Linked DNA regions of Homo sapiens: region 1 is linked to region 2. Evidence: fine-mapped expression QTL. Tissue or cell type: lymphoblastoid cells. Region 2 holds a variant in brackets; the other region holds the start of a gene. All regions are shown on one strand. Distances are between the middles of the regions. Region 1 holds the start of SPTLC2 (serine palmitoyltransferase long chain base subunit 2). Region 2 overlaps NRXN3 (neurexin 3).

Region 1 (5,376 bases), 590 kb after region 2:
CACTTAATAAGTACTTCATTTATCCAATGAATAATTACCAACACTCATTTAATATTATGTAACAGGTCTTGGCACTAAATGCTTTTGTTAATTCTCCAACTCTATGAGGTATATCCCATTTTACAGAAGAAGTACCTGAGTCATAGAGAGGTTAGGCAGCTTTGCCTAAATCATAAGGATTCTAGGTGCTGAAACCGGTCTTCAATTATGGTATATCTGACTGCAGAGCTCTTGCTTCTAAGCATTGTGTAACCTCCCTCTCAAAGAATCTCAAAGCAGTGTGATACATGCTTACACAGGTGTGTATAAAGCTCACAGAGGAGAAAGCAACTAATTTTGTGGGGAGGTTGGGGTTCAAAACAGGCTTCACAGTTGAAGTGGTTTGAGCAATCTTGAAGGAAGAGAAGGGTTGTCTTCCTGGTGCCTAGCACAGAACTTTGCATATGAACACTGTAAAATGATGATTAAGCGGCTTATGTTTCTGGAAGGAGTTGTTTTCCTGTTTACATGGAGTCTGGGGTGTTTCCTACTGCCTACTGCAGCATCATTTTTGTGATTTAGCAATGGCATGTGAAGTAATCAGATCATCTGTATATCACTGATGCTCACAGAAGCCTGTAAGGTAAGTAGTACAGGTACACACTTTGTAAGATGAGTGAGGAAACCAGGGCTGAGTTTGCATTACTTGTCCAAGACTATACATAGTGAGTAAGTGGCGGAACAAGACAAGGGGCCAGCCCCCTGAGGAGGGATCGGCTAACAGGACTCCTCAAATCTAGCCAGACTCCTTTACTCCTCTTAGCCTGCAGGTGAGGCTTTGATCTTTCTAGACTCGACACCCGAGTTTCTGAAGGTTTCCTCAGAACACCCTCCCCATCCTTCTCAGTTCCAGCTCTCCAAGTCCCGCTCATCTTCCAAGATCTGTCTCATTGCACATCTTCCTCGCAAGCCTTCTCCAGAGTCATTCAGCTCACTCCCTAAGCTTCAGTTAAATCCCTTAGCCCTGCTTCCATCCAGATTCCTGCCCTGAAAACTTTCTACCTGGTTAGACTCATCACTGCCATTCAGCTTCCCTCATCAGAACTCCTGTTGCCTAATCTCTCCAGCCTTAGGTTGGTCTTTAACTATTGTTTTCTTTCTATGTGTATATCTTGTCTCTCACTGAAATGTAAGCTCCATGAAGCACAGCCACATGTTTCCTTTTTAGCCTTATACATACAGATGTATATTCACTTTGGGATCAATAGTGTTTGTCAACTCAAATAGGATGTGTGGGATGAATGATCCCACCTTCTGTTAGATTATTCAGCTCCTAAGTCATGCAAAACCAATACCTTGTGGACCTCCTTTCTAAAGCTCCTGCAGGGTGGGGAAAGAATGCACGGATTCTCATAGGTGCATTTAGCAATTACTAGTAACCAACACTTAATGAATGCTTACTAATTGCTAGGTCCTGTACAAAATACATTACATACATAAACTTATTCAATCTTCACGACAACTATTATTGTCCCCACTGAACAGATGAAGACACATAGAGGTCACTCAGCTAGTAAGTGGCGCAGCTAGGATTTAAAACCCAGACCGACTCCAGAGTCCATACTCTCAATTATGATACTAAATTCTTTATGGATAACAGAAAGTCTCTAATTGTAATGTAGATCAATTTCCTTGCTTTCTAACCCCATGGGAAGATGGAACTAAAAGGGTGAGAAAATAATATTTATTATACTCCTACTATAAGCCTAGTATTATAAGAGGTGCATAATGGGTTAATGATATAATTCTTGCTGTAAGTCTATGAAGCAGGAAGTATTAACTCCATTTTAAAGAATTTGGCTTCTAAAGTGGTTAAACACAGTGCTCAAGTTTTAGCTTCCAGTTATTGGCAGAGTTGGAATTAGACCAGGTTTTCTAACTTTGAAGGAAAGACTTAATTTAAAGGAGACTGTATAGAAAACCCTGCCAAGGGCAAATGTGAAGGGCACGTGAAAAGGCATCTGAATTATTACTTATAATAATTCAGAAATAGTGAATGTGTGGCGCATATTGAAGAATGATGAGAGATTGTCAAAAAATCTATTCTATAAACACTCACAGAGGAATCAGCTAATTAAATAAGCGAGCTGCCTGTCTTGGGCTAGGACATAAACTCCAAAACTTCCCACGAGGCAAGGGCAAAGAGGGCGCCACCTGTCCTGGAGAACCTGGGAACCCGCTCTAGAGACTTCGGCTCAGCCCCTTTTATTTCCTCACACTCTAATTGGCTACTTTTCCCTGGGCTCCGCCTCCTCCTCGGTCTGGACCATTAAACAGGCAAGCCCTACCCCGGACCTGGATGCGGCCTCCAATCAGGTGCCAGGCCCTGGAGTCCCTCTAGAGAAGCCCCCTCTCCACCGGCGAGGCGCTTTGCTCTCGTCCGTGATTGGCCAGGCAGCAGCATGGGGTCCGCCTCCTTCTCTTCCAGATTGGTCAGCGGTCCTCAGGACCACATCCCTCTCGGCAGGTCCCCGCCGCTTTTTCCCTTCGCTGCGTGGCCTTGGCCGAGACCGGTCCTCTGCGGAGAGGGCCCCGCCCTCTGTGAAGGCCCGCCCGGGAATTGGCGGCGGCGCTGCAGCCATTTCCGGTTTCGGGGAGGTGGGTGGGGTGCGGAGCGGGACTTGGAGCAGCCGCCGCCGCTGCCACCGCCTACAGAGCCTGCCTTGCGCCTGGTGCTGCCAGGAAGATGCGGCCGGAGCCCGGAGGCTGCTGCTGCCGCCGCACGGTGCGGGCGAATGGCTGCGTGGCGAACGGGGAAGTACGGAACGGGTACGTGAGGAGCAGCGCTGCAGCCGCAGCCGCAGCCGCCGCCGGCCAGGTACGAGGGGCCCGCGCGGCGGGGCCGGGGTGGCGGTGTGGACTGGCGGAGGGGCGGCCGGGCGGGGCGAGGTCTCCGGGCCATCCGCTGGGCAATCCGCGGGGCGGGCGCCGTTCGCAGGTGTGGGCGGCAGTGTCCGGCCGCTGGCCCGACCTCCACGAGCCTGGAGGCTCAAGGACGGCTCGGGGGCTCCCCACCTCTCCGCGCCTGGAGGTCTTACTCCCGGAGCTCTGGGTTCTGCTCAGAGCTCCGGGTACTTTTCTCTGCCCCATTCTGCCAGAAGTGTGTGCTGTCCCCAGGGGAAGCGATGAGGGGCCCTTCGGACTCCAGTGGGAGCCGCCCAAGGGCTCCGGAGGGTCCCTTCTCAAACCCCTGAGGTTATTGCTTCCTTTTAAAGTCCTGCAGTCGTCCAAAGAAAACCACCCATGGGGTCCTTAAGAAGCAAAGAAAATTAGGCGGTGGTGTCAGATGGAAACACACCCAGCCTCTCCCAACCACATTCTGGACTACCACGTTCAGTCCCCAACCAGGACATTGGTCCATAGATCTGGCAGGGAATCCAAGCTGGTCCCTCGAAAGCATCATTCTCTTAACTCTGCCGGTGGTGAGACTCTACCCCAGGCTCCAGGTTGGATTAGGTGGCCCCTTCGACCCTTTCCTGAACACGAGTGCTATCACACAAGGGGATTGTTTAGCCTGGTGGTGACTTGCGATGACTCTATACTAATTAACCATGCTGAATCATCAACCAAGTTCAGGCAGTTCTAAAATATTTTGAAAAGTTCTAAATTCAAGACAATGCTTATTATCAACCTTACAGTGGTCTGGACTGACAGATATTCTGTTGAAATGTGTTTTTAAAGATGAGCTGGTTAAAAAGATGCAAGATCGGTGTTCCTGGAAGAGAGTGTTGCGATAATTTTGCAGTTGACTTTAATACGTTTAAGTCTTGTACAGATATTAAGGAACGCTTAGAAAGTACTCTGTTTCCCTTTAGCGGGAGTGTGACTGTTGCAGTTTGATAGGATGGTGATCTTAATTTGGCTTTAACATAACTACTCCCCAGATGAGTAGTTATGATGGATAGGTCTGTTACTGTTTGCTGCGAAGCAGAAAATAAAGCATTTTTCCAGGTCATGTTGAGATATTGAGACTGAGTTGAGGGGAAAAATAAGTAAAGCAGACTTGACCTCCCCTGAAGTTGTAAGGTGTCAAAGCGAAGTAATACACAGATCAAAAGATTTGTTTTCACTTTTAAAGAAATAATTGTGTGAGGGAGGAAGTGATAACAGTCAGCTCATTATAAGCAGTGGAATAGTTTGTCGTTTTCCTAGCAATGTAAACGACTTATAAGACAAAATTGTTGTGGTATAGAATGTAATAGGGAAATTTAACGGGTAGGAGTTAGAAAATACATTTGCAGGTGAATTTCATTGAGGTATGATTTTTTTTTTGTTTTTGTTTTTGTTTTTTTTTTTCAGACAGTTTTGCTCTTGTCACCCAGGCTGGAGTGCAATGGCGCGATCTCGGCTCACTGCAGCCTCCACCCCCTGGGTTCAAGCGATTCTCCTGCCCCAGCCTCCCGAGTAGCTGGGATTACAGGCGCCCGTCATCACGCCCGGCTAAATTTTGTATTTTTATTAGAGATGGGGTTTCACCATGTTGGCCAGGTTGGTCTCGAACTCCTGACCTCAGGTGATTGGCCTGCCTTGGCCTCCAAAAGTGCTGGGATTACAGGCGCACCAGGCCGAGGTATGATTTTTTTTGTTTTTTTGGTTTTTTTTGAGATGGAGTCTCGCTCTGTCGCCCAGGCTGGAGTGCAGTGGCGCGATCTCGGCTCACTGCAAGCTCTACCTCCCAGGTTCACGCCATTCTCCTGCCTCAGCCTCCCAAGTAGCTGGGCCTACAGGCACCCGCCACCACGCCCGGCTAATTTTTTGTATTTTTAGTAGATACGGGGTTTCACTGTGTTAGCCAGGATGGTCTTGATTTCCTGACCTCGTGATCCGCCTGCCTCGGCCTCCCAGAGTGCTGGGATTACGGGTGTGAGCCACTGCACCTGGCCGGTATGATTTTTTAAAATGAAAAAGGAAGTCAAGAGAAAGGTGTTCACACTTCAGCGTTGCTTTGTGTTCAAATGCTTCTTTCAATCCCTATGAGTTATGTTCAGATTTAGTAGGAAATCAAGGACCTTTCTCCCATAATCTCTAACAATTTAGCATTTATAGAATGATATTTCTTCAGAGCTTGCCAACTAATAAGGTGAAGAAATATCAAGGTACTAACATGACATTTTAAAATCTGTATGAATAACATTTGGTTGACTTTTGGGGACATGTTTTGTAAAAGTTTCACTCAAGGCACATTGGTGGCATTTGGAAGAACGGTCTGTTGGAATGCTGTGAGGGCTGCAGTATCCCTTCTAGAAAACTACTTCTCACCAGTATTTTTAATACAGACTTCAGATCTGGAGCTTTCTACACTCTCAGATGGAGGAATATTGTCTGTGAATATTTTTC
Region 2 (5,376 bases):
GAGGCTGAGGCAGGAGAATTGCTTGAACCCGGGAGGCAGAAGTTGCAGTGAGCCAAGATCTCACCACTGCACTCCAGCCTGGGCAACAGAGCAAGACTCCATCTCAAAAAACAAACAAAAAAAAAAGAATGTCCGATGTGGCAAAACAGGAAAAGAAGCCTGGAGGCCAACTCACTGTGTAACCTTGGACAAGTTGCTCACCACCCACTTTGAGCCACAGTTTGGACTCCATAATCTCCAACATCCCTGCCAGTTATGAAACGGGACCATGAAGTGACCTCAAGATGGGTCTGTGTAACCACCCTGAGAACATTCAGGACAGTAACTCCAGGGAAGGAGTGCAGGCGGTAGTCCTGCCAGCTGCCCTACCAACCAAGGAGGCCACTAGTTAAGCAATGGGAGCAATCTCATCTCAGCCTTTCACTCTTTTTTTTCCTCTCTTGGGCTCTCTGGGCCTTTGTTCCTCTTTATTTACAGAGAGAGAAGCATTCTTCTCAGGGCACAAGAGAGAGTTTCTTCCCCACTCAGGTCCCCCTCCTCTGGGCAGACTAGAGGAGGAGAAACCTGCCATTTCTGGGGTATGAGTGATCCAAACACAGTGTGGAAACCCCCTGCATGGCTGTATTCCAAGAAAACACGAACACCATTTCATGGGATACTGTGTCTGAACACTCTGCATTGAGAAAAGCTCCCCTAGTCCACTTCACAGGAATGGTGTGAGCACCTGGGAAAAGCAGTCATGAAAAGGTTTTGGAAGACAAGTCTCATTGTACATAGAGAAACTCCTCCATGGTGTCAGAGGAAAAAAGTGAGCCTCTACTGGGTACTTTACAAAACAAAAAGACAGGGCATCTCCACTTTTGTGCCCCACAGGTACCGCAAACACAATATGCCCCAACCTGGATTCATCAACCTCCCAGCAGCCTCCACATTTGCTTTGTGATCTGGTTTCTTGGCCTCATCAAATGGCACCCACAACCTCCCAATTGCTCAATACAAACTCTTCCCTTCTGCCTGCCTACCCCTTTCTATCCTCACTGCCACTTAACTCCATCACCATCTCTTACCTGAATTGTTGACCTAGACTCCTCACTTATCTCCTTGCATTCAGCCCTGGTCCTCTCTCACCCATTCCCACACTGGAGCCAAAGTGATCTTGGCATAATTTCAGTTCGAGCACACAACTCCTTTCCTTAGAGCTCTTCAGTGACTCTTGGTGGCTCTCAACATGGAGTCCAAACTCTGGCCTGGCAGGCAAGGCCCTTTCCCAGCTGTCTGCCACCTCTTTAGATGCATCCCTCTCATCCTGCAGCTGGCTCTTCCCTCAGCAATCTTTGTCTCTAATGCACCCTGCTGTCCCTCCACCTCTGCACAGACTGTTCCCTCTACCTGGAATACTCCTCTTTACCCTCTTGGCCTAAGCCAAGCCACAATCAACTTTTTGATCTTTCACCTCAATTCCTCCAGGAAGCCCAATCCTACTACTCAAAGAGTTAAATAATGCTCTTTCATGCAAACTCTACCCAAGCAAAGTGTAAGTACTTCAACAACATCCAAGTGTGCCGTGCATCGTCTCAGCCAATCTGAAAAGACCCAACACATGACACATTGCACCATGCCAGTGGTACTCTGGGTTGGGAAAGAAAAATAAAGATGCTTGCATGGGCAAGTGACTTAATCCCCCCCAGACCTCCATTTCCTCATCAGTAGGTAAAGGGATTGGCACAGAATTCTGTCCCCATTATGCTTGTCATTGTCAGAAATACTTAAACACATCCAATCAGTCCTCGCAATGATATTTAGACATTAACCCTCTGGCATCCCCAGCCCTTCAGTCTCCAAACACCAACTGCAGTGATCCTGAGATCCACTGGTACCTTGGGTGGCATGTTCAGCGTGCCCTGTGGGCTGGGGCAGCGGGCACCTAAATAGATTTCTCCTGCACTACCTGTGCCCCCATCAACACAAAGGGCAGAAGGTCAGATAGAAAGCTACTCTTGGTCTCCGCACTTTGACTCTGGTCTCCTAGAAGCCCCTCCTATGAAATGGTCCTGAAAACTTCCAAAGAACTCCACAAACCTCAAAGAACGTGAAAAGGCTCCATCACCTACAAAGTCCTCAGTAGAATCCAAGTGACCCAAAACCCAGTTACTTACGGCTCTTTATTGCCATGTATGATATTTTAGAATTTATGCTAACATTTGTTTTGTGTAGGATTACAATAATAATACATGTGCCTGCTAGAAATTTTTGAAAATACAAGAGAAAAAGCACAATTATGCCACTTAGAAATGATTAACATTAACCTTTGTAGTCTTTTTTCTATGCACATATTATTTAATTTAGATCATAATATACATAGTTTATAGCTTGATTTTTCCCTACACCATTAAGTTATTTTGATGATAGCATAATATTTCATTACCACCATTAATTTAAGTAATTCCCCATCCAAAGAACTTAAGATATTTCAACTTTTTAAAACTTTTCTCACAGTAACATTATAAATAAAACTGTGAGAAATATCCCTAAATATATTTTTATATACCTTTTTTCTTAGGGTGGAGATCTAGTGTTTCTGCATTACGCTGACAAAGGAAAAACCAAGAGGCAAATAAAGAAAAACAAACCAAGGTGGCAAACATATTTTTTCCTCACACCACTGAAGAACCCATTCATACATGCTCGTGCTCTTTCTTAGAACTGGCCAAGGTTAAAACAAAAAAAAAAATGTCACTTTTTTAGG[C/G]CTATCTAATAGGCCAGGCTTAGCAAAAATACATTATAAAGGGGCTGGAAAATGTTAATTCTTATACTCTGCAGGTGGGATGGTAATATGGCATAAACTTTAGCGGGAGGAACAATATTATTTTTAAATATAGAAAATGTAGAATTTAAATATCCAACAATAAGGAATAAAGTAAATTGTTACATCTCTGTAATGGAGTACTTTATACCTTTACAACCCTTTCAATAAAAGGTTAAAGAATACCTACTGGCACAGTAACAAGCTCACATTATAACACTAAAATCAGGAAAAAAAAATCAGACAACACAGTGTGTTTCTGTAAACAAATAAAAAAAGAAGTGTATACAATCTAATACAGACACACAAACCACACACACACACAAACCACACACACACACAAACCACACACACACACACACACACACACACACACACACCTGGAAGGATCTACACCAAAAAGTCAACAATGGTATGTGGTAGGAAAATAGTGATTTTTTTGCTTCTGTCTCTGTGCTTTTCTGACTTTTTAAAGTTTTCAGTATTAGTGTTTATCATTTGTATCACATAAAGTACTATGTATTAATAGTGGTAACGGAAAACCTTATCAGATTGGTGAAGGAAATAAAGCAACACTAACTGAGGTTTCCGAACACAGGTGGATTGGTCCCATTTCCTGTCCCTCCTTTCCACCTCTCTGCATGTGGCCATACCCCTCAGGGGACAGAAGAAAAACAACAAGAAAATGAGCCTGTGACATTTCCCACCCAGTTTTGAAACTGAGCCGAGCAGCTGAAAAAGACTAGGATCAAAGAAATACATCATACCTGGGAGCCAGTGCCATATCCCAGGCTACTCGTCACTGATGTCTAACCCTGAAACAGTAGCAATGGGAGAATGCTTTACCTAGCTCCAAAATGCCAACAATGAGTAATTATTAGTAATATTGCCCCTGGGCCCCAGGAAGCCTCATCTCACATGGGGGTTGGGGGTGAAACAAAGGAGTTGCCCCCTCTCACAAACCAATCTGCCTTCAGCACACCTGGTACTTCACATCTGCACAGTAACTCACAGCCTCAGGCCCCCAGGGCACATTCCCAGGGGAAAGCCCTCTCTATGGACATAAGTGTAAGAGGAAACATCTCATGTGTAAAGAGAAAGGCATGGGGACTCAGATATGAGCCTTGACATGCCCATGTATTGAAAGAGCCAACAAGCCCCATCCCCAGCCAGAGAAGTAGAGGGGGATGGTAGCCCCGACCAGGCTGTGGTCCTAGATGTCTATCTCTACTTGCTGGCTAGCTGTGTTGCTTTATTCTAGTGTTCTAATGGCTCTGCCCCTCTGTGTCCTCATATGTAATACAGAAAATGCTAATTCTACCTATGGCATTGGGTTAGGATTATAAAACTAAAATAATATACATCACAAACCTGAGTCTAGCACACAGTACTCGGAAATTGGTCCCCTTTTCCTGTCTTGCCCTTGTCCCTGGAAAAGGGCAGGGACTCTTAACAGTTGGCAGGGACACTGTCCCCACCCACAGCAACCAAGTTTTCCCTCGCAGGGTGTCAGTGAGGGGTTGGCCTTGATATGAGAGATCTGTTTAGCCCACCTGGCCAACACACATAGAAACAGAAAGCCCATCCCTGCCATTTATTTTTCCATCTAACAGATTTTTCACAGACCTAGGAGGGACTTTCAGGTGACCTAGCTGACCTCCTCCCATCCCCACATCCCCTGACTTTACAGCCCTGACAGGTGACCTTCAGGGAAGGCCCCCGGCAGCATGTCTGGTTATAGTAAGTCCAAGCACTTGACAAACGTCACACCATTTTACTCTTGACATCTCCAGAAACAGGAACAATAATGCTGCCACATCTTTAACCGACAGGAAATCCACAAAGTCCTTTTGCAGAGGCTGATCTAAATTTCATTTCACTTTTTACTTTAAAAATTCTGTCAAATCCTCTCTGACTGCAGACAAGAACAGGTGTTCCCTTCGTTTTCAGGCAGGGTAATGGAGGCATGCTTGTCTCAAATGACCCAGCCTTTCGTTTCCCCCTCCTACTTCACCCAGGATGGCACTTGGCTCTCTCATCCTGGAAGGCATGCCGCGGCTCACCCATGGCAGCTCACCCATGGCAGCTCACCCATGGCAGCTATGGGAGTTTCTCCCTCCCCACTGCTTTCATTCTGGGCTGCACCTGAACCAGCCACCCATTCTTCCCTTGGTTGAAGCCCTAGCCAGAAATGGACCTTAGATTCAATGGCCTTGGTCGCTGTAGCCAATTTCCGCCCTGGCGACCTTGCTCAGAGAGAGGCTTTGAATGGTGCAGGCTCATCGCACTTTCCTCCTGCGGCCTCCGAGTCACACTTCAGACGCGCGTCATCGGAGAAGATGGAAGAACAGCATGTCGGAGCGGCTGACAGCATCACCACAGCTCTGTCTCTGCCCACTGCTCTGTCTCACCAGCCCGTGGTGGTGAGATTTCTCCTTTCTTCTCCACCTTCTGTCTCCAGCCCGAGACTTGTCAGCAGCTCCTTCGTGTAGCAAACATATGCAACGGGTTGACTTAAAAGGTCAATTGCAGCAGATTTGTGCGTGTTCTCTCACTCTGACGTAGAAGTCCCA

Evidence for each region.
Region 1: it holds the start of SPTLC2, and the variant in region 2 is fine-mapped to the expression of SPTLC2 in lymphoblastoid cells (GEUVADIS, PIP 0.95).

The regions. Positions count from the first base shown.
Region 1 is chr14:77,613,929-77,619,304 of GRCh38, reverse strand. It overlaps SPTLC2 (serine palmitoyltransferase long chain base subunit 2), which reads left to right and starts at 2,668. Exons shown (of 12, transcript NM_004863.4): 1 at 2,668-2,857. The coding sequence starts at 2,726. RefSeq lists silencers at 2,242-2,301, 2,632-2,681, 2,822-3,021 and enhancers at 2,341-2,873, 3,202-3,411.
Region 2 is chr14:78,201,611-78,206,986 of GRCh38, reverse strand. The region is part of intron 1 of NRXN3 (neurexin 3); the gene reads right to left. Among named protein-coding and RNA genes, the nearest start is that of NRXN3, 34 kb to the right of the region's middle. The variant C/G (reference allele first, on the strand shown) is at 2,747.